7 linked regions of the Homo sapiens genome follow. The protein of the gene in region 6 interacts with the protein of the main gene of each other region in a pairwise test. Each region holds a gene or a part of one and is shown on either strand. Other genes may lie near its edges.

What was found.
Region 1: the proteins of SYNCRIP (region 6) and SDC2 interact in binary tests that used the Homo sapiens proteins (3 or more experiments, as listed by UniProt).
Region 2: the proteins of SYNCRIP (region 6) and MYPOP interact in binary tests that used the Homo sapiens proteins (3 or more experiments, as listed by UniProt).
Region 3: the proteins of SYNCRIP (region 6) and PECAM1 interact in binary tests that used the Homo sapiens proteins (3 or more experiments, as listed by UniProt).
Region 4: the proteins of SYNCRIP (region 6) and RAB5A interact in binary tests that used the Homo sapiens proteins (3 or more experiments, as listed by UniProt).
Region 5: the proteins of SYNCRIP (region 6) and PRMT8 interact in binary tests that used the Homo sapiens proteins (3 or more experiments, as listed by UniProt).
Region 7: the proteins of SYNCRIP (region 6) and CFAP418 interact in a two-hybrid assay, tested with the Homo sapiens proteins (one study listed by IntAct).

The regions. Positions count from the first base shown.
Region 1 is NC_000008.11:96,500,313-96,503,812, reverse strand, and holds part of SDC2 (syndecan-2 precursor), read right to left. Parts: intron 1-3,500. UniProt on the Homo sapiens protein: Cell surface proteoglycan which regulates dendritic arbor morphogenesis.
Region 2 is NC_000019.10:45,892,614-45,896,113, reverse strand, and holds part of MYPOP (myb-related transcription factor, partner of profilin), read left to right. Parts: intron 1-481; coding exon of another isoform or gene 482-492; exon of another isoform or gene 493-1,645; intron 1,646-3,500. UniProt on the Homo sapiens protein: Transcriptional repressor; DNA-binding protein that specifically recognizes the core sequence 5'-YAAC[GT]G-3'. Dimerization with PFN1 reduces its DNA-binding capacity.
Region 3 is NC_000017.11:64,363,361-64,366,860, forward strand, and holds part of PECAM1 (platelet endothelial cell adhesion molecule precursor), read right to left. Parts: intron 38-3,500; coding exon 1-37. UniProt on the Homo sapiens protein: Cell adhesion molecule which is required for leukocyte transendothelial migration (TEM) under most inflammatory conditions.
Region 4 is NC_000003.12:19,978,097-19,981,596, forward strand, and holds part of RAB5A (ras-related protein Rab-5A), read left to right. Parts: intron 1-213; coding exon 214-307; intron 308-1,864; exon of another isoform or gene 1,865-2,078; intron 2,079-3,500. UniProt on the Homo sapiens protein: The small GTPases Rab are key regulators of intracellular membrane trafficking, from the formation of transport vesicles to their fusion with membranes.
Region 5 is NC_000012.12:3,497,703-3,501,202, reverse strand, and holds part of PRMT8 (protein arginine N-methyltransferase 8), read right to left. Parts: intron 1-3,500. UniProt on the Homo sapiens protein: S-adenosyl-L-methionine-dependent and membrane-associated arginine methyltransferase that can both catalyze the formation of omega-N monomethylarginine (MMA) and asymmetrical dimethylarginine (aDMA) in proteins such as NIFK, myelin basic protein, histone H4, H2A and H2A/H2B dimer.
Region 6 is NC_000006.12:85,616,182-85,618,886, forward strand, and holds part of SYNCRIP (heterogeneous nuclear ribonucleoprotein Q), read right to left. Parts: coding exon 2,637-2,705; intron 1-2,636. UniProt on the Homo sapiens protein: Heterogenous nuclear ribonucleoprotein (hnRNP) implicated in mRNA processing mechanisms. Component of the CRD-mediated complex that promotes MYC mRNA stability.
Region 7 is NC_000008.11:95,252,202-95,255,701, forward strand, and holds part of CFAP418 (cilia- and flagella-associated protein 418), read right to left. Parts: intron 83-3,500; coding exon 1-82. UniProt on the Homo sapiens protein: May be involved in photoreceptor outer segment disk morphogenesis.

The sequences.
Region 1 (3,500 bases), on a different chromosome or scaffold from region 6:
ATAACATATCTTTCTCTGAAGGATCAGCAGAACTTACTTAAACAACAATCTAGCTCTGGTGCCATTTTTTGATTGAAATTTTTGTTGAGATAACTATAGACTCACACACAGTGTAAGAAATAATACAAAGATCTCTTGTGCCCCTTCCTAGTTTCCGCCAATGGTAACATTTATAAAACTACAGTAAACATCACAACAATGATATTGATATTGATACAATCTACCAATCTTATTCTGATTTTCCTAGTTTTACCTGTATTCATGCTGTGTATGTTTGTGTATGTGTATCTACACAGTTCTATGACATGTATGGATTTGTATATATACATTATCTTTATACACACACACACCTTTTAAAATATAACCAAGGTCTCACTATACATAGGTTTATATCTAACTTTTTGTGTACTATAGTTTCTAAGTTATAAATACCCTTCAAATAAATCTTTAATGGCCACATGATATTCAGTGTCTAAATTAGAATCTTATTTAACAATTACTCTATTATTGTACACTTGGGTTGTTTCCATTTTTTTAACTATTATAAGTAAGAGACTTCAACAAAGACATTAAATACTATTTACCTGGTAATGATTTCCTTTGGACAGATTTGTGGAGGTAAAATTACTGGGAAAGATGAGCTTTTCACATCTTAACACGGATTTGTCCTGTCCCTGTAAGGAACCTTTCATCAGCCAGAAATAATAAATGGCATATTTTCTCACATCATCCACTTTTAGAGAAAAGCTGACTACAAACATATTCCCAATATCTCAGCGTAGAACTAGTCTACCCCAAGACAAGAAGAAAGCCCCTGTTATGAAAAAGTAGGCCTTAGCATGCATATGCTGAGCCACCCTCTGGGCTAGAGCTTATCAGATGAGCCCAACTAATGTGTGTGCCAAGCCCTTATTCTTCAGAGAAGCAGAAAGCCAGGAATTATAACTAGCATGTGACACAACGCATGGACATTCCCTTATGCTAAAAAGTCCCTACTTATTGTGTCTCACATAATCCTAAAAACTTATTTTAGGATATTCAGTTTTACAGATGAGAAAACTGAGCCCAGAAGGTTAAAAAACTTGCCCAAGGTTACATAATAAGTGTATCCAAACCCAGGCAACACTACCATAGTCTGCTCATTTAGATTCTTGCTTGTGGTCTGCACAGTACTCAGACCAGGCTCAAGTGCTCTAGAGAGGGACCAAACGGAAGGCACCAGTTAAAAGCCCCACTCTGGAAATGGAGATCCAGGCCAGAAACCATATGAGGAGACTAAAACACTTTATGAGATTTATAGTTTAAAAAGACCCCCAGTATATCAAGTCATGTAGTCTTCTATCTAGAATGAAAGTTATTTTTACCACGCAGCTGTTCTTTATGTTACACTGGCTTGTATCAGAAAATATATAAAAAAATACTAGTGATATGGTTTGGCTGTGTGTTCACCCAAATCTCACCTTGAACTGTAATAATCCCCATATTTCAAGGGCGGGGCCAGGTGGAGATAACTGAAACATGGGGGCGGTTTCCCCTATACTTTTCTTGTGGTAGTAAGTCTCACAAGATCTGGTGGTTTCATAAATGGGAGTTCCCCTGTACAAGCTCTCTTGCCTGCCACCATGTAGGACGTGCCTTTGCTTCTCCTTTGCCTTCCACCATGATTGTGAGGTCTCCCCAGCCATGTGGAACTGTGAGTCCATCAAACATCTTTCCTTTATAAATTACCTAGTCTTGGGTATGTCTTTATTAGCAGAGTGAGAACAGACTAATACAAATAGACATTAGATCACGAATACGCAGGACAATGTATACCACTCCTAGTAAACAATGAACACTCAGTTCAAGGTAACAGGTTACCATGAGCTATTAGAAATTACTTGCCTTTCTGTAAGGTGAATAAATTCCATGTTTCAATAATAAAATTAGAAGTATTTGACAGGGGATTAATAATTACTTATTAAGTTAATCTTCACATTTCTCCTACCACACCCTAAAGTGCAGAAAAAGTAAATATTAAGGAGAGAGAGTTTTTCTCGTTCAACTCCATCATTTTAGAGATGAGAAAACTGAGGTCTCACAGGGATTAAGACAGTTAATTACATGTGTATAAAACCTTGCTTTTGCCTTGACTTAAAATGTTGTATATTTAGTCTACTGTATTTATATTTAATAACAAATTACACATAAATACATACTTAACTCAGCTGGTTGCAGTGGCTCACGTCTGCAATCCCAGCACTTTGGGAGGCTGAGGCAGGCGGATCAGTTGAGGTCAAGAGTTCAAGACCAGCCTGGCCAACATGGTGAAATCCCGTCTCTACTAAAAATACAAAAAAAGAATAGCCAGGCGTGGTGGTGTGCACTGTAATCCCAGCTACTCGGGAGGTTGAGGCAGGAGATTCACTTGAACGGGGGGAGGAGGTTGCAGTGAGCCTCATTTATGCCACTGCACTCCAGCCTGGGCGACGGAGTGAGACTCTGTCTCAAAAAAAAAAAAAAAAAAAAAAAAAAAAAGAAATACGTATTTAACTTTTCCCTTAAAAAAAATTTTCCTTTAATAATTGCGTATCTTGTCCCGTGTGTCATTCTTATACCATGAGACTAAATTCTATTAATTGCACACACTCCTTAAACATCACGGTTACTTGTATTTAATATACCTGTGTAATCATAAAAAAAAACACCAAAATGCTTTGTAGAGAGCATACTTACTGAGTCTTTGTGACATTTTTCACAAAATAGACTGAATAGTAGAGAAAAAAACTGTGAAAACATGTCTTTAATAACATTTTTCCATTTTTCCAAGACTATGCATTGGCTATCACGCCACCAGCTGCATACTCATTGGCTTCACTCTGCTGATGTGAAATGCAAATGGAAAATCTCCAAAGATTTCAAGGCTTCTCTCTTCTCCCACTCCTACCAATTCTTTGAGATACTTGAGAAAAACAGACATTCACAATTCTATTTCAACAGTGTCCTCTCCCATTCAGAGGCATTCACCCCTCCATCCTTGTTGCTAAAGCTAATGCTGCCTAGAAACAGACTTATCAAAATGCAGTTGAGATTTTTAATAGTAAGACCTAAAGCCCAATGGCTAAAAGAAGAAATTTAATGCATTTCCACTCTTTTTTTTTTTTTTTTTTTTGAGATGGAGTCTCACTCTGTCGCCCAGGCTGCAGTGCCATGGCATGATCTCGGCTCATTGCAACCTCCGTCTCCTGTGTTCAAGCAATTCTCCTGCCTCAGCCTCCCAAGTAGCTGGGATTATAGGTGCCCATCACCACGCCCGGCTAATTTTTATATTTTTAGTAGAGACGGGGTTTCACCATGTTGGCCAGGCTGGTCTCGAATTCCTGACCTCAGGTGATTGGCCCACCTCGGCCTCCCAAAGTGCTGGGATTACAGGCATGAGATATCGCGCCAGGCCACATTTCCACACTTAAAAAATAAAAATAATCCCTTTTCTGCCCCCAGATCCCCAAAATATACTCACT
Region 2 (3,500 bases), on a different chromosome or scaffold from region 6:
TCACCATGTTGGCCAGGCTGGTCTCAAACTCCTGACCTCAGGTGATCCGCCTGCCTGGGCCTCTCAAAGTGCTGGGATTACCGGCTGAGCCACCGCACCCGGCCTGGATGGTTGGTTTTTTGTTTTTGTTATTTTTTTTTTCTCTATCTTCTCTCTTTCTTTGGCTGGCTGTTTTTGAGAGAAGAGCAGGGTGATCTGATTTGGCCAAGGAGCAGGAGGCCAGCTTCCCCGAGGAAGGAACATCCAAAAAAACATCCAAGCTGATGCAAGAGGCAGTGTGAGCCTGGCCCAGGGAACGACATGTGGGAAGACAGGCGGAGTTGGGGGCAAGTGCTGAGGCCCCATAGCCGTGGGAAGAGGCTGGACTTTCTCCTGTGGGTGCTGGGCACTCTGGGGCCTGGGACCCAATCAGCGCTGAGTCTCTGGAAGCCCCAGTTCTTTTCTCGTTAAAGAAAAAATGTTGTGCTGGACATTGTTCTAGGCGCCGGGTAAACAGAAGGGAGCAATACAAAGCCCTGCCTGATGGAGCTGACATCAGGAGGAGGAGACAGACAGCAGACACAGAGCCATACCGTGCCAGGTGGAGATAAGTGCTGGGAGAGGAATCAGGTAGGGTTAGGGGAGAAAAAAAGAAGGAGATGGGGCCAGCCTGAGCAACATGGCAAAACCCTGTCTCTACAAAAACAAAACAAAAATTAGCCAAGCGTGGTGGTGCACACCTGTAGTCCCAGCTATAGCTACTCAGGAGGCTGAGGTGAGAGAATCGCTTGAGCCCAGGAGGCAGAGGTTGTAGTGAGCCGAGATTGCACCACTGCACTCCAGCCTGGGCGACAGAATGAGAGTCCGTCTCAAAAAAAAGAAAAGAAGTAGGCCTGATGTGTTTGAGGATCAGCAAGGAGGCCACCGTGGCTACAGCCAGGTAACCCAAGAGGGAGGGATGGGAGCTGAGGTCAGGAAGGCAATGGGGGAAGATCGTGCAGGGCCCTAGAGGCCTCAAGGACTTTGCTTTTACCCTGAGTGAGGTGAGAGCCACAGGACGGTTTGAGCATAGAAACAATATCTGACTTGTGTTTTTTTAAACAATTATATTGCAATATAAGGCCGGGCGCAGTGCTTACACCTGTAATCCCAGCACTTTGGGAGGCTGAGGTGGGTGGATCACGAGGTCAAGAGATCGAGACCATCTGGCCAACATGGTGAAACCCCGTCTCTACTAAAAATACAAAAATTAGCTGGGCATGGTGGTGTGCACCTATAGTCCCAGCTACTCAGGAGGCTGAGGGTGGAGAATTTCTTGAACCCTGGAGGCAGAGGTTGCAGTGAGCCGAGATCGCACCACTGAGCTCCAGCCTGGGCAGCTGAATGAGACTCCATCTCAAAAAAAAAAAAGAAAAAAGAAAAAAATGTATATATATATGGCGATATAATTTCCACACTATACAATCACCTCAAAGTGTACGATTTGCTTGAGACCAGGAGTTTGAAACCAGCCTGAGGAACATAGTGAGACCTCATCTCTACAAAAAAATAAAATTATCCTGGTGTGGGGTCGCACCTCTGTGGTCCCAGAAGCTCAGGAGGCTGAGATGGGAGGATCGCTTAAGCTGGGGAGATTAAGGATGCAGTGAGCCGAGATCTCACCTTTGCACTCCAGCCTGAGCGAGAGAGCAAGACTGTGTCTCAAAAAAAGATGAAAATTAAGGCCAGGCACGGTGGCTCACGCCTATAATCCTAGCACTTTGGGAGGCCAAGGCAGGTGGATCACAAGGTCAGGAGATTGAGACCATCCTGGCTAACATGGTGAAACCCCGTCTCTACTAAAAATACAAAAAAATTAGCCGGGCGTGGTGGAGGGCACCTGTAGTCCCAGCTGCTCGGGAGGCTGAGGCAGGAGAATGGTGTGAACCCAGGAGACAGAGCTTGCAGTGAGCCGAGATCACACCACTGCACTCCAGCCTGGGCGACAGAGCGAGACTCCGTCTCAAAAAATAAAAAATAAATAAAAATTAAAAATAAAGTGTACAGGATCAGGCGCGGTGGCTCATGCCTGTAATCCCAGCACTTTGGGAGGCTGAGGTGGGCAGATCACGAGGTCAGGAGATCGAGACCATCCTGGCTAACACAGTGAAACCCCGTCTCTACTAAAAATACAAAAAATTAGCCGGGCGTGGTGGCGGGCGCCTGTAGTCCCAGCTACTCAGGAGGCTGAGGCAGGAGAATGGCGTGAACCCAGGAGGCGGAGCTTGCAGTGAGCTGAGATCGCGCCACTGCACTCCAGCCTGGGCGACAGAGTGAGACTCCCATCTCAAAAAAAAAAAAAAAAAGTAAAATAAAATACAGCGTACAATTCAATGGCTTTTAGTATATTCAGAGTTATGCAACCATCACCACGATCAATTTTAGAACATTTTCATCACTCCAGAAAGAAACCCTGCACCTCTTAGCCATCCCCAATCTCCCATCTTCCCTGTCTTCCCCCAGCCCCCGGCAGCCACTCATCTACTTTCTGTTTCTATAGATTTGCCTTTTTTTTTTTTTTTTTTTTGAGACGGAGTTTCGCTCTTGTTGCCCAGGCTGGAGTGCAATGATGCAATCTCAGCTCACTGCAACTTCTGCCTCCCGGGTTCAAGCGATTCTCCTGCCTCAGCCTCCTGAGTAGCTGGGATTACAGGCATGCACCACCATGCCCAGCTAACTTTGTATTTTTCGTAGAGACAGGATTTCTCCATGTTGGTCAGGCTGGTCTCAAACTCCCAACATCAGGTGATTTGCCCACCTCAGATCCCAAAGTGCTGGGATTACAGGCGTGAGCCACCACACCCGGCCTATTTTTATTTTTGAGACAGAGTCTCGCTCTGTTGCCCAGGCTGGAGTGCAATGGCACGATCATGGCTCACTGCAACCTCCGCCTCCCGGGTTCAAGCGATTCTCCTGTCTCAGCCTCCCCAGTAGCTGGGATTACAGGCATATGCCACCATGCCCGGCTAATTTTTTGTATTTTTAGTAGAGATGGGGTTTCACCATGTTGACCAGGCTGGTCTTGAAGTCCTGACCTCAGGTGATCCACCCGCCTCGGCCTCCCAAAGTGCTGGGATTACAGGCATGAGCCACCACATGCGGCCAAATTTGCCTATTTTGGACATTTCATATAAATGGCCCCTGTGATCTGTGGTTCTTTGTGACTAGCTTGTTTCCCGTAGCCTAACTGACTTGTATTTTGGTTGGACCCCTCAGGCTGCTGGTGGAAAAAGATACTGTCAGGGACAGGGGTGGAAGCAGAGAGCCCTCAGGGAGGCGATGACTGCAGTGGTCCTGGTGGGAGATACTGGTGGTTGGGCCAGGGTGGGGGACCAGGAAGAAAGAAGTTGTATGTATTTAATTTGAAGGCAGAGACGATAGCTTCTGTATGTGGATGGTGTCTTAGTAAACAAAACAGTGAAGGTGTTTAACCTGAGCAGCTGGGAGGATGGAGCTGCATCAGCTGAGATGGGGGTGGCTGA
Region 3 (3,500 bases), on a different chromosome or scaffold from region 6:
GTGAAGGAAGATTCCAGTTCGGGCTTGGAAAATAGTTCTGAAAAACAGTGAGTGGGAATGGAGCGAGATGTGTCTGGCCACCACCCTAAAGACCCTTCCTGGAGAGGCCCTTGGCTCAGGTGCTCTTGGCAGAACCAACTTCCAACTTCCAGCAAAAAGTTTTCCTTTGCTTCTCATGTACCTAACGATCACCCCAGTAAGGAGCTAGGGTTCATTCTTTGCCTAGGATTCCAATGGCAGGTTTTCCTTTCTTGTTAATCCAATTTATTTCAATGACAAGGATTAGAAAAGTTTTGCAACTTGTGGCCAGGTGTGGTGGCTCATGCCTGTAATCCCAGCACTTTGGGAGGCAGAGGTGGGTGGATCACCTGAGGTCAGGAGTTGAGACCAGCCTGGGCAACATGGTGAAACCCCATCTCTACTAAAAATATAAAATTAGCCAGCATGGTGGTGGGCGCCTGTAATCCCAGATACTTGGGAGGCTGAGGCAAGAGAATCCCTTGAACCCAGGAGACAGAGATTGCAGTGAGCCGAGATTGCTCCACTGCACTCCAGCCTGGGCAACAAGAATGAAACTCCTTAAGCTAGCAGAAGGCAAGAAATAACTAAAATCAGAGCAGAACTGAAGGAAATAGAGACACAAAAAACCCTTCAAAAAATTAATGAATCCAGGAGCTGGTTTTTTGAAAGGATCAACAAAATTGATAGACCGCTAGCAAGCCTAATAAAGAAAAAAAGAGAGAAGAATCAAATACACGCAATAAAAAATGATAAAGGGGATATCATCACCGATCCCACAGAAATACAAACTACCATCAGAGAATACTACAAACACCTCTAAGCAAATAAACTAGAAAATCTAGGAGAAATGGATAAATTCCTCAACACACACACTCTCCCAAGACTAAACCAGGAAGAAGTTGAATCTCTGAATAGACCAATAACGGGATCTGAAATTGTGGCAATAATCAATAGCTTACCAACCAAAAAGAGTCCAGGACCAGATGGATTCACAGCCGAATTCTACCAGAGGTACAAGGAGGAACTGGTACCATTCCTTCTGAAACTATTCCAGTCAATAGAAAAAGAGGGAATCCTCCCTCAGGATGATGAGGCCAGCATCATCCTGATACCAAAGCCGGGCAGAGATACAACCAAAAAAGAGAATTTTAGACCAATATCCTTGATGAACATTGATGCAAAAATCCTCAATAAAATACTGGCAAACCAAATCCAGCAGCACATCAAAAAGCTTATCCACCATGATCAAGTGGGCTTCATCCCTGGGATGCAAGGCTGGTTCAATATACACAAATCAATAAATGTAATCCAGCATATAAACAGAACCAAAGACAAAAACCACATGATTATCTCAATAGACGCAGAAAAGGCCTTTGACAAAATTCAACAACCCTTCATGATAAAAACTCTCAATAAATTAGGTATTGATGGGACGTATCTCAAAATAATAAGAGCTATCTATGACAAACCCACAGCCAATATCATACTGAATGGGCAAAAACTGGAAGCATTCCCTTTGAAAACTGGCACAAGACAGGGATGCCTTCTCTCACCACTCCTATTCAACATAGTGTTGGAAGTTCTGGCCAGGGCAATTAGGCAGGAGAAGGAAATAAAGGGTATTCAATTAGGAAAAGAGGAAGTCAAATTGTCCCTGTTTGCAGATGACATGATTGGATATCTAGAAAACCCCATTGTCTCAGCCCAAAATCTCCTTAAGCTGATAAGCAACTTCAGCAAAGTCTCAGGATACAAAATCAATGTACAAAAATCACAAGCATTCTTATACACCAATAACAGACAAACAGAGAGCCAAATCATGAGTGAACTCCCATTCACAATTGCTTCAAAGAGAATAAAACACCTAGGAATCCAACTTACAAGGGACATGAAGGACCTCTTCAAGGAAAACTACAAACCACTGCTCAATGAAATAAAAGAGGATACAAACAAATGGAAGAACATTCCATGGTCATGGGTAGGAAGAATCAATATCGTGAAAATGGCCATACTGCCCAAGGTAATTTATAGATTCAATGCCATCCCCATCAAGCTACCAATGACTTTCTTCACAGAATTGGAAAAAACTACTTTAAAGTTCATATGGAACCAAAAAAGAGCCCGCATCACCAAGTCAATCCTAAGCCAAAAGAACAAAGCTGGAGACATCACGCAACCTGACTTCAAACTATACTACAAGGCTACAGTAACCAAAACAGCATGGTACTGGTACCAAAACAGAGATATAGATCAATGGAACGGAACAGAGCCCTCAGGAATAACGCCGCATATCAACAACTATCTGATCTTTGACAAACCTGAGAAAAACAAGCAATGGGGAAAGGATTCCCTATTTAATAAATGGTGCTGGGAAAACTGGCTAGCCACATGTAGAAAGCTGAAACTGGATCCCTTCCTTACACCTTATACAAAAATTAATTCAAGATGGATTAAAGACTTAAACATTAGACCTAAAACCATAAAAACCCTAGAAGAAAACCTAGGCATTACCATTCAGGACATAGGCATGGGCAAGGACTTCATGTCTAAAACACCAAAAGCAATGGCAACAAAAGCCAAAATTGACAAATGGGCTCTAATTAAACTAAAGAGTTTCTGCACAGCAAAAGAAACTACCATCAGAGTGAACAGGCAACCTACAAAATGGGAGAAAATTTTTGCAACCTACTCATCTGACAAAGGGCTAATATCCAGAATCTACAATGAACTCAAACAAATTTACAAGAAAAAAACAAACAACCCCATCAAAAAGTGGGCGAAGGACATGAACAGACACTTCTCAAAAGAAGACATTTATACAGCCAAAAAACACATGAAAAAATGCTCACCATCACTGGCCATCAGAGAAATGCAAATCAAAACCGCTATGAGATACCATCTCACACCAGTTAGAATGGCGATCATTAAAAAGTCAGGAAACAACAGGTGCTGGAGAGGATGTGGAGAAACAGGAACACTTTTACACTGTTGGTGGGACTGTAAACTAGTTCAACCATTGTGGAAGTCAGTGTGGCGATTCCTCAGGGATCTAGAACTAGAAATACCATTTGACCCAGCCATCCCATTACTGGGTATATACCCAAAGGACTATAAATCATGCTGCTATAAAGACACATGCACACGTATGTTTATTGTGGCACTATTCACAATAGCAAAGACTTGGAACCAATCCAAATGTCCAACAATGATAGACCAGATTAAGAAAATGTGGCACATATACACCATGGAATACTATGCAGCCATAAAAAACGATGAGTTCATGTCCTTTGTAGGGACATGGATGAAATTGGAAATCATCATTCTCAGTAAACTATAGCAAGGACAAAAAACCAAACACCGCATCTTCTCACTCATAGGTGGGAATTGAACAATGAGAACACATGGACACAGGAAGGGGAACATCACACTCTGGGGACTGTAGTGGGGTGGGGGGAGGGGGGAGGGATAGCATTAGGAGA
Region 4 (3,500 bases), on a different chromosome or scaffold from region 6:
TTCAGACAAAAAAGGAAATAGTCCATTATAAAATTATCTTGCACAGTGCTCTTACCTCTGTTGTAGCTTATTATATAGTTGTTGATTATAGATGATTATAGGAATCAGGTTGTAGTAATAAGAAAGTCTCCTTTTCTATAACAAGTTTAAAGCAGGTGTAGTGTATTTCCAAGAGATATATCTCATATATCTCATTTTTTGTTCTGTAAACAGGAAGCACAGTCCTATGCAGATGACAATAGTTTATTATTCATGGAGACATCCGCTAAAACATCAATGAATGTAAATGAAATATTCATGGCAATAGGTAAGATTAATATCTCTTTTTAAATGATCAATATAAGCAAAACAAGTGTGAAGCATATTTGGTTTGACTGTCTCTTTTTTAAAAAATTTTTGGGGGTGGGTTTGTGTGTATGTTTATGTGTGTGTGTGAGAGAGAGAGAGAGATTATACCACTTTTCTAAGTCCCTTCCACAAAACAATATTTTGTTGGTAATATTGTTAAATTTGAAAGATGATTACCTATTAGGTTGTAATACTGTCAGTTTAGGCAGCTTCTTCCAGGTGAGTTAAGCCTTAACCTCTTAACCTGATAGTTCAGACAGACAGATTTTGCAAAGGTTTCGCTGGGAAATTTGGATAAATATTTTTTTTATTAGATTATACTTTTTAAAAATCAAATTATTGGTAAATATAACTCAGAAGAACATGACACATAAGTATACAGATTGACAAATTATTTTAATGTAAACATTATAAGGAAGATGATTTCAAAGCATAGAGGCGTAAGGAGAAAAAAGGAAAACAAAACAACATCCATACTTTATATTACCTCAGATGGTCATTTGATCTTACACAATGTTCTTGCTGTTGCTTTAAGGTACTTTTTTTTTTTTTGAGACAGTCTCGCTCTGTCGCCCAGGCTGGAGTGCAATGGTACGATCTCAGCTCACTGCAACCTCCACTTCCCGGATTCAAGCGGTTCTCCTGCTTCTGCCTCCTGAATTGCTGGGATTACAGGTGCACACCACCACGCCCAGCTAATTTTTGTATTTATAGTAGAGACAGGGTTTCACCATGTTGGTCAGGCTGGTCTCGAACTCCTGATCTCGTGATCTGCCCACCTCGGCCTCCCAAAGTGCTGGGATTACAGGCGTGAGCCACTACACCCAGCCTAAGGTACTTTCTTTTTTTTTTTTTTTGAAATGGAGTCCTGCTCTGTCACCCAGGTTGGAGTGCAGTGGGACGATCTCGGCTCACTGCAAGCTCCGCCTCCTGGATTCACGCCATTCTCCTGCCTCAGCCTCTCCTGTAGCTGGGACTACAGGCACCCACCACCATGCCCGACTAATTTTTTTTGTATTTTTAGTAGAGACGGGGTTTCACCATGTTAGCCAGGATGGTCTCAATCTCCTGACCTTGTGATCCGCCCACGTCAGCCTCCCAAAGTGCTGGGATTACAGGCGCGAGCCACTGCCCCTGGCCCTAAGGTACTTTTAACTGATGGTAATTGCTGTTTCAGTTATAAGTAATGAAGTTGGAGTAGTAATAAGCCTCCTTTTTTCTATAACAAAAATAAAGGTTGGTTTTGTTTTTTGGTTTTGGATTTTTTTTTTAACCCTTTCCTCTTTCCAGTGGTTTTAATGTATAGATTCTACCTGAAGGGTCTGTTTTGGTGGTTCTCAAAGTTTGCCGTCTGTGGTTTTCATGTGCCCAGCACTCTTCTCATCCCATAACACCTTTTATTTTACAGCACTGATTCTTAACTGGGGTGTTCACAGTCCTAACCCCAAGTAAGAAATATTCTTAAATTGAACTCATAAATAGTTAATAGCTGAATCAGAGAATAATGAAAACCCAGTAAAAGTTGCAAGTATTTTTATTATTTTTCACTAGGTGACAGAGTTTAATGGTACTTCATTCGAAATGGGAAAGAACTTGCCTTTTCTCATGTAAACTGTTTTCCTGAAAAACTCAAGTTTGCAGTTTGCTAGGGAAGTGCTGGCACAGTTGCGAAGGATTGTGTGATAATATACTCATTTTACAAATGTGACAGATGACACCCAGAATCACATCTGAAAAGTTAGAGGAAACAATGAGTTAATAGGCCTCTCAAATCAGCCTGCACTGTAAACCTTTCTCACAATATTTAAACTCTACCAGATGGGCTTTAGTTTGTACCTTTTTATTCAAACATGCTAATAAAGTCATTTTTCGAGTTAGAAAGCAGCCTACATATTTTAGTTTTTTGTTTTTTTCTGAAATCAGAATGTTGCACTTCTTAAAAGAAAATCTATGTTGTAAATGGAATTGTGGCCTTTCCATTTCCTTCACTAGGTTAGTAAATTTTTTTTTCTTTTTTTTTTTGTTATGAAGGAACACTTTGATAGATTAGTAACTTAAATCACACAGTGCACTCATAACAACTCTAATCAATGCAAGGACTAAAAAGTTACTCGTTCTAGTTTACCTCCTTCATCCTCTTAATCTCACTCACCTCTGATTTAAACACTTAGGGAACATGCTAAAGGGATACATGATTGATTACTCAATCTGGAACCTAAGTTGTTATTATATACAATATATAGTGCTATTTTGTGTCCCAGGTACCAGTGTTCAACATTTCTGGGGCTTTGCTTGTAAATACATTTGACTGGAGATTTACCATTATAATGCTATTTATGCTACCAGCCCAGAGCCAGTCCCAGAGAAGTGGCCCAATTGAAGGCTTTCTTTCCAAACTTCAGTGCTCCTGGCTCCCAAATCCATTGCCCAACCCAGCATCTAGGATTCTAAAAATGATTGATGCTGATGTAGAATGGAATGTGTAGAACAAATAAAGGATAAAAGGTTCACAATGCAACTAGGCAATCCGATCTCAAAGCAGAGTGTATTCAATTTCTGAGTAACCTGAGTCAAAGCTATGGTAAAGTTAGAGTCTTACCATAGTGGTCTGTCCCCAAGATTGATAGAGATCAGTGTGTGCAGCCACTCTTAAAATCAGTACTCTTAGTCATCTTTAATATTCTGCCTCCCCTCAAAAAATGAATTTAGCACATCAAGGATCTTATGTATTAAAACAAACTACAGCAATCTCCAACTTTACAGTGGTTTGACTTACGATTTTATAACTCGATGGGGTGAAAGTGATATGCATTTAGTACATTCTTAACTTACTACGGGATTACATACAGAAACCCATCATAAATTAAAAATATCATAAATCAGGCTGGGCGCAGTGGCTCACTACCTGTAATCCCAGCACTTTGGGAGGCCAAGGCGGGCTATCACCTGAGGTCAGGAGTTGGTCAGGAAACAAGCCGGGCCAACATGTCGAAACCCCGTCTCTACTAAAAATAGAAAAATTAGCTGGGTGTGGTGGTATGTGCCTGTAGTCCCAGCTACTTGGGAGGCTGAGGCAGGGGAATTGCTTGAACCCAGGAGGCAGAGGTTGTAGCGAGCTGAGATCGTGCCACTGCACTCCAGCCTGGGTGACA
Region 5 (3,500 bases), on a different chromosome or scaffold from region 6:
CAGGAGAAGGAAATAAAGGGTATTCAATTAGGAAAAGAGGAAGTCAAATTGTCCCTGTTTGCAGACGACATGATTGTTTATCTAGAAAACCCCATCGTCTCAGCCCAAAATCTCCTTAAGCTGATAAGCAACTTCAGCAAAGTCTCAGGATACAAAATCAATGTACAAAAATCACAAGCATTCTTATACACCAACAACAGACAAACAGAGAGCCAAATCATGGGTGAACTCCCATTCACAATTGCTTCAAAGAGAATAAAATACCTAGGAATCCAACTTACAAGGGATGTGAAGGACCTCTTCAAGGAGAACTACAAACCACTGCTCAAGGAAATAAAAGAGGACACAAACAAATGGAAGAACATTCCATGCTCATGGGTAGGAAGAATCAATATCGTGAAAATGGCCATACTGCCCAAGGTAATTTACAGATTCAATGCCATCCCCATCAAGCTACCAATGACTTTCTTCACAGAATTGGAAAAAACTACTTTAAAGTTCATATGGAACCAAAAAAGAGCCCGCATCGCCAAGTCAATCCTAAGCCAAAAGAACAAAGCTGGAGGCATCACACTACCTGACTTCAAACTATACTACAAGGCTACAGTAACCAAAACAGCATGGTACTGGTACCAAAACAGAGATATAGATCAATGGAACAGAACAGAGCCCTCAGAAATAATGCCGCATATCTACAACTATCTGATCTTTGACAAACCTGAGAAAAACAAGCAATGGGGAAAGGATTCCCTATTTAATAAATGGTGCTGGGAAAACTGGCTAGCCATATGTAGAAAGCTGAAACTGGATCCCTTCCTTACACCTTATACAAAAATCAATTCAAGATGGATTAAAGATTTAAACGTTAGACCTAAAACCATAAAAACCCTAGAAGAAAACCTAGGCATTACCATTCAGGACATAGGCGTGGGCAAGGACTTCATGTCCAAAACACCAAAAGCAATGGCAACAAAAGCCAAAATTGACAAATGGGATCTAATTAAACTAAAGAGCTTCTGCACAGCAAAAGAAACTACCATCAGAGTGAACAGGCAACCTACAACATGGGAGAAAATTTTCGCAACCTACTCATCTGACAAAGGGCTAATATCCAGAATCTACAATGAACTCAAACAAATTTACAAGAAAAAAACAAACAACCCCATCAAAAAGTGGGCGAAGGACATGAACAGACACTTCTCAAAAGAAGACATTTATGCAGCCAAAAAACACATGAAGAAATGCTCATCATCACTGGCCATCAGAGAAATGCAAATCAAAACCACTATGAGATATCATCTCACACCAGTTAGAATGGCAATCATTAAAAAGTCAGGAAACAACAGGTGCTGGAGAGGATGTGGAGAAATAGGAACACTTTTACACTGTTGGTGGGACTGTAAACTAGTTCAACCATTGTGGAAGTCAGTGTGGCGATTCCTCAGGGATCTAGAACTAGAAATACCATTTGACCCAGCCATCCCATTACTGGGTATATACCCAAAGGACTATAAATCATGCTGCTATAAAGACACATGCACACGTATGTTTATTGCGGCACTATTCACAATAGCAAAGACTTGGAACCAACCCAAATGTCCAACAATGATAGACTGGATTAAGAAAATGTGGCACATATACACCATGGAATACTATGCAGCCATAAAAAATGATGAGTTCATATCCTTTGTAGGGACATGGATGAAATTGGAAACCATCATTCTCAGTAAACTATCGCAAGAACAAAAAACCTAACACCGCATATTCTCACTCATAGGTGGGAATTGAACAATGAGATCACATGGACACAGGAAGGGGAATATCACACTCTGGGGACTGTGGTGGGGTCGGGGGGAGGGGGGAGGGATAGCATTGGGAGATATACCTAATGCTAGATGACACATTAGTGGGTGCAGTGCACCAGCATGGCACATGTATACATATGTAACTAACCTGCACAATGTGCACATGTACCCTAAAACTTAGAGTATAATAAAAAAAAAAAAAAAGAAAGGAAAAAAAAAATAAATAAATAAATAAAAATAAAAATAGGGTCTTTGCAGATGTTATCAAGTTAAGATGAAGTCATATTGGATTAGAGTGGCCCCTAATCCAACAAGACTGTTGTCCTTATAAGAAGACGTATAGACACACACAGGAAAGAATGCCCTGTGAAGATGAAGGCAGAGACCAGATGATGTGTCTATAGCCAAGGAAGGCTGAGCATCGTTGGCCACCACGGGAAACCAGAAGAAAGGCAAGGAACAGATTCTCCATGAAGACTTCAAGAGGAACCAACCCTGCTGGCATCTGGATTTCAGACTTCTGGCTTCCAGAACTGTGGAAGAAGACATCTCGTTGTTTTAAAGCCACCCAGTTTGTGGTACTTTATTACAGCAGACCTAGGAGGGTAATACAGGTGATGAAACTACAAAGATAAATTTTAAGAAACAAAGTTCCTGTCCTGGAGACTTTAGTATTCATTTTATCCCAATAAAGTAGCTGGATGAGAGTCCAGATCTAATATTGATGGCCTAGGGTCAAGCTTCCGAAGAGCTATACTTTGTTAGACAAGTACATTGTCTACTGGGTCCAGCTAGGAACCCACGCCTAGGGATAGTTTAGATGCGCAGGGAGAGTGAGGTGATGGCTGTCCCTGCCACAATTATGTCAGGCCCCTGTCACTCACACGGCACAGTACTGGAGACTGTGAAAGTGAGGATGGCAAGATGGCGGTGGAAGCAAGAAAAGACGTCCTGGAAAAAGGAAAGCTGGGCTGGTGTCTCTTCCTAGGCTTCTTCCAAATTCACCATTCCACATTCCTGCTGTTAATTTCTCCACCCTTTCTCTTCACATTTTAAGTTTGTACTCTGGTTCTTCTCATGCCTTCGCAGCCTAGCGGACTAGAAAAAGCATTTTGGTGATTAGAAAACCAGACTTTGAGCTCTAGCCTCATCACTTACCAGCTGTGGGATTTTGAGCAAATAACAGTAACTCTCTGTGCTTCAGTTTATTAATCCATACAATGGGGATATATGTAATTCACAGCATTGCACACAATGCAATGTAATAAGCGAGCATTTTAAGTTCTACAAGAAGGTCAGAGCTCTCACTATGCACAATTCCTAGACCTTATGCAGAGAAACACTGGTCTTAGACAGTACAGATCAGGATATACCAGAAAGTTGGCACAAAAAATAAAAACAATAAATGAGATGCTACGTTTAAAGGAGGTATAAAGAGCACAGACCCAGGAGTCCACAGGATCTTGACCCCAACACGGAAGAGCTCTGTGATATTGGACAAGTAGTTCCTATCTCCTGACTTAAGTGATTTGAGTTTCCACCCAACTTTAACATTCTATGACTTTATGAAAATACGCACATCAAGCTGTTTGCTCAATATAAAATTACACTTTAAAAAGAGATCTTTACTTATGGGCCACTCATTACAAATATGGGAAAAACTGTGATGCTTGAGGGAATTCTTATAACAAGTGA
Region 6 (2,705 bases):
TCATGTTCCCTACAGTACAATTTTATACAATTCCTTAAAACTTAGTGATTATTTTGAGCCCAATAATCCCATGAAATATGGAAATTAATCCCTCTTGAAGGAATAATTTACTCGTGTTTTTTATTCCGTACCTGTTATGTTATTTTATTTATTTATTTATTTGAGACACAGTCTTGCTCTGTCACCCAGGCTGCAATGCAGTGGCGCAATCTCACCTCACTGCAACCTCCACCTCCTGGGTTCAAGTGATTCTCCTGCCACAGCCTCTCGAGTAGCTGGGACTATAGGCATGTGCCACCATACCTAGCCAATTTTTATTTTTAGTAGAGATGGGGTTTCACCATGTTGGCCAGGCTGGTCTCGAACTCCTAACCTCGAATGATCCACCCACCTCGGCCTAGAGTGATCTGCCCACCTCAGCCTCCCAAAGTGGTGGGATTACAGGCATGAGCCACCACGCCCGGCCTTATTTTATCCTGAATTATTAAAGGCCCCTGTTCCAACTGACTAACGTAAAAATGTTATTCCGGTTCACTAGGTCCTTAGACCTTTTATGTGCTCTGCTGGTTTATTGTTTTGAGGAAATGATGGAAAGATCATCCTTTTCTATTTCTAAATAGTTCTCACCAGGGATAATTTTGCCACCACCTCTTTCCAGGGGGACATTTTAGACGGTCATAACTGAGAAAGGGGGTGCTACTGGCATCTAGCAGGAAGAGGCCAAGGATGCTGCTAAAAGTCCTACAACGCACAGGGCAGCCCCCAAGACCAAGAATTATCCAGCCCAAAATGTCAGGAGGACAGAGATGAGAAATCCTGGTATAGTGGTTAAGAGGGAAAATTATGGGAGACTAGACTACCTTAGTTCAAATCCAACTCCACTACTTACTATGTGAATGACCCCAAGGAAGTTGACTTCTGAGCCTCAGTTTCCTCATTTCAAACTAAGGGATAGAGTACCTAACTCACAGGAATACAGTGAGAATTATGTAGGAATACGTGCTTAGTTAAAACTTAAAAAAAAAAAAAAAAAGACTGTAGCAAGTTAAAGTACGAAAGTAACATGCAATCATCCCTTTTAGTTTGTACTCCTTTTCAAATATTAACAGATATACTGACATCCTCCACCTTCTATTTAGTATCTCCCTCTATCAAGTACCAAATGTAACTGCTCTAATCACATTATCTAATATAATCTCCTATACTTACATTCTACTTTAATAAATTAACCATATATCGTCTTCTGAAAGAAATAAAAAGAAGTTATTTTACACTGTTTAGTATATCCAGGTGTTTGAAATATAGAGCATTAAAACTAACTCTTTTTGTAGTCTTCCTTCATTTACACTATCATCAAACCTACAAAGTATATTTTCTTTGGTCCCAGAACAAGCATGGGTCACTTGGATAATCACATAATCCAGAGCTATTACATAATTTTGTCTGATCCCATTTTAGAACTGAAGAAATTGAGGTTCAGAGCTTGCCAACTTGTCCAACTGGACAATTAACTGCAGAAACTAGAACTTGATCAATTCCCTGATTATGAAGTAACAGAAATATGTAGAAGCATCCTCTTCCTTTAAATTCCAAACAGGGCAATCAACAGAAAATTAACCTTGAATAGTATTGACAGTGATTATTGCTCTCACATTCAAGAACAATTACCCCTCTTCTAGGAAATCAGTAACTAACTTTTTAGGAGCTAACTTCAATTCTTACCCAACTAAGTTTCCTTCAGTCTTAAGCAGATACCTATTTACAGATTCTCTAAAAAGGTCTCCCTAATTAGTATAACTCATTACACACCTACTTGTTTTCTTATTGCACTACTGTGTTATAATTTTAATACTCATTTCATTTTCAAAATCCATCCATCGAACATGAAATTTTTGGGGTGGCAATGAGCACTACTGGTGAAGAAACAGTCTATCATGAATAGAGATTTAGTATTTCCTATCTCTCAGAGAAAAAACTCTCCACCCTTTAACAAAATGTATTAAGATATTTGGACAGCTAATATTTAAGACATTTTCAGAAGAACATTCTGTAAAATACAAAGAAAATATGTGAGATAGGCCAGGCATGGTGGCTCACAGCTGTAATCCCAGCACTTTGGGAGGCAGAGGTGGGCGGATCACCTGAGGTCAGGAGTTTGAGACCAACCTGGCCAACATGACGAAACCCCACCCCTACTAAAAAAAAAAACACAAAAATTACCAGGCATGGTGGCGCCTGTAACCCAGCTACTCAGAAGACTGAGGCAGGAGAATCTCTTGAACCCGGGAGGTGGAGGTTCCAGTGAGCCGAAAGAGTGCCACTGCACTCCAGCCTGAGTGACAAAGTGAGACTCTGTCACCCAATACAAAACAAAAAAAAAGCTAGACAGATTTTTCATCTTGCCAATTTACCAAAATTCCAGTTATTTACAATTCTGATTATTTTCACAAATATGGTTCATAGTAAGAGTTCAATAAACACTTAGATCACTGGTGTTTCCCTATGACTCTCAAACGTTCAAGTCTTCTTTAAAGAGATGTTATGCATTTAACAAGTCTGATCAACACCTGTTATTTTCCAATTAGTGTATAAATATTAAAATTTATACAATTTTTAAGTATACAAATTTCACTCACATTTGATTTTTTGCTGCTTGCCTCTGAGCTTTTCTTTCTTTCCTTTTCTGATCTGGTGGCTTGGCAAAA
Region 7 (3,500 bases), on a different chromosome or scaffold from region 6:
ATCACACGATTTGTCCCACATATAGTCATCATAGCTGACTACCAAGAAATCACAGGCTATACAACGCAGATGGTCACATGCTCTGTTCAGAGAAAAAAAATTGTATATTAAAGATTATTGGTATCTTTAAATACCAATGAAAACATGGTGATTTATTTATAGGATACACCACATATTACAGATTACTGAATAAACAACAGAAAAGTACAGATTAATCTGATTATAAATCTTTATACTAAAGCATTATTTACGGTCTAAACCTTAAGGTTAAATTTTTGCACAAACCTACCTATTTTACTATGATCTTGTACACTGAACTTACACATATATTATATAGATATGAAAGAAAATAGATTTGTAGATCTTTTAATTCCATGGTTTTCAAATTACGTCTGAGGGAGATCGTCATATAAGCTAACTTCTTTAAATGCTCCCCTTCCTACTGAAATTTTCAGGAATATCTCTACCGAAGAATATGTCACATGACATTGAAATGAATCTGTTTTTCAGATAAGCTGCTTAAGCGCTGGGAAAAGATTGTATTTGTTTGCTTCCTCACAACTTGGCATAATGCATTCATTCACTCAAAAAATATTTATTGAGAGTCTGGTATGTGCTAATGAGATTCTGTCTTCATAGAGCTTTGATTGCAGTGAGAGAAGAAACAAACAATGCTCATGATAACTAGACTATATACTAACCTGGAGGGATATCTGAAGCAAGGTGCACACTAACATATATAGCATGATCCTATTTTTGTAAAAACGACCCCCACAAAAAATTCCTATATAGGTGGCTAGAAGTTTATAAGAACATGGAGCAAAATGGCCGGGCGCGGTGGCTCACGCCTGTAATCCCAGCCCTTTGGGAGGCTGAGGCGGGCGGATCACGAGGTCAGGAGATCGAGACCATCCTGGCTAACACAGTGAAACCCCATCTCTACTAAAAATACAAAAAAATTAGCTGGGCATGGTGGCGGGCGCCTGTAGTCCCAGCTACTCAGGAGGCTGAGGCAGGAGAATGGCGTGAACCCGGGAGGCGGAGATTGCAGTGAGGGGAGATCGCGCCACTGCACTCCAGCCTGGGCGACAAAGCGAGACTCTGTCTCAAAAAAAAAAGAACATGGAGCAAAATGTAGAAAGTTATATACTACACAGTAACCCTGGTTGCATCAGGAGTGGTTGAAGGGAAGGAAGGGAGATTATTATCTTTTTCTTTATACATGTTTCAATTTTGTTTTTATTCTTTCATTAAGCACATAATACTTCTGTAATGAAAAAATAAACTCATCATTAGATTTTTTTCATTTATTTCCCTTCAAAGTTCAGATACGCTAATTTCAAAATGCAAATACTTTTGGCCTGAAAATTTCTTTGAGAATAAATGCTTTGTATTTCTAAAAATACTATTAACCATAATAATAATGAAACATTTAAAACCTATACAAGTTTCATAGGCAAGTCCATATTTTCTTTCAAACTGTTAGCAATTTATGAAGTTGCATTTCTACATTTGGAAATTCAACAACTACATTTGTACACATTTGAACTCAGACTTCGAATGTACAAGTCAGGAAATGCAAATTGATAGTTCCCAAAGCTACTATGACCTGCTTTCTTATGCATATATAGTTTATTACATGATTGCACAGAGTGTTAACTTTAATGCCTTAATACATATGTGCAATTTGGCTGAATTATTGCTGTTGTGGGAACTATAATTTAGAATTTCCTGACATTTTGTATGTGTAAAATCTCAACCATAATGCTAAATACAGCTTTTTAATTTAATTTAAAATTTAGTAGTTTATTCAAATCTATTCACACCACCACATTTTCCTACAAACACTGTCCTTTGAGAAACATAAAACTAACTTGCAGCTAAGAAATCATTCCACTGCTACGATTTACTCTATTAGATCATAATTAGTACCAGTCTATGGAATAATCCAGTCTTGCAAGTTGTTTAAAAAATAATTGAGAGTAAAATTCGATTGGCTTGAAAATGCCTTCGTTTTATCTGTAGTACTTATTACTGCCACCATGCTTCCTACTACTATTCTCTCCCCTTTTCCACCAACAAGTGAAAGACAAATCTTTTTCTAAAATCTAAAGTCATTCAGCATTACCTCAAGCCAGAGCTGTATCTAGAAATCAAACAACGCAAATAGGCAGGATAGATTCAATTTCCTTTATGCCCTGGCCATGTAAATCAGTACTCTTTTCAGGGCTGAAATATATTTCTCTTTCATAACTATGTACATAAAAGCATATCTAATATAAAGTCATGACTCCAGTGAAAGACAAACTGTCAGGTCTTTCCCTCTAAAATGTAGAGGGAATCACACATAAGATGTCACCAAGAGCTTTGTTCTTTTGTCCAGCTAAAAAGTAGAATTCACTATTTTAAAGATGTTTACGACAGGAATGCCCCAAATCCAACCCAATACAATCTTCTGCCCAGACACTGTGGTTCTCTGTTAAATCCTATCAGATCTGCACAATGGGACTAAAGAAACTTGATGTCTGGATAGTTTGAAGATAACAGCAGTTCCAACAGCAACATCAGCTAAGATTCTTCCCATATTACATGGCTTTCTGCTAAGTGGTATAATAGAAAGCATAATGGATTAGGAATCAAGTAACCAATCTGGATCCTTGCTTTGCAATAACTGATATGACCTTGAGCAAGGCACCTTATTTGGGAGTCATTCTTAACAACTTTCTTTCTTACCCTCCTTAGTCAATCACTGAATTCTGTCAATTCTATATTCTAAATATTTCAAATTTGACCTTTTCCCTATAGCCATTGCTACCACGCAGGTCACAGCTCCCATCTTCTCTTTCCTGGACCACTCTAACTACTGCCCATTGACTAGTCTTCCTGTGTCCTTTCCTGTCTTGCCCCTCCAACTCCCAAGCCATTTTCTGCACAGCAGCCAACATGACTTTTTTAAGAAACACAAATCTGGCCCATTGAACACAGGACAAACTTTTTCCAAAATCCTCAAAAGGATTACAGGACCCTAAGCCAAATGTCCCTCCACTCTCTCTCCAGCCCAGTCAGTGGCCATTCTTTCCCTACTCATTATGCTCCAGCATGGCCAGATACTCTCTGTTCCTTCCACCAGAGGAACACCCCCAGCTCCTCCCCTTCTCAGGGAGCTTCTAAACATGCGTGTGCTCTGGCTCCAATGGTCACCTCTCTTTGTCTAACTCCTACTCATTTTTCATATTGTGGTTTGATTATCTGCTCAGAGAAGTATTCCCTGACCCTTCATATTAGTTAGAGTGTCCATTATCTATGCTTATAGTATCCCATATGTTCCCTTTATGTCACATATCAAATGGAAAATAAATACTTATTTGTGGAATAATCTATTTAAAGCCCATCTCCTCATCTAGACTGAAAGCTCATTGAAGACAGGAAGTGTCCATTTATTTGTTCATCAAAATTTGTTCATTTAATCCTTAGGACCTATCAGGTGGTTAATATGTGTT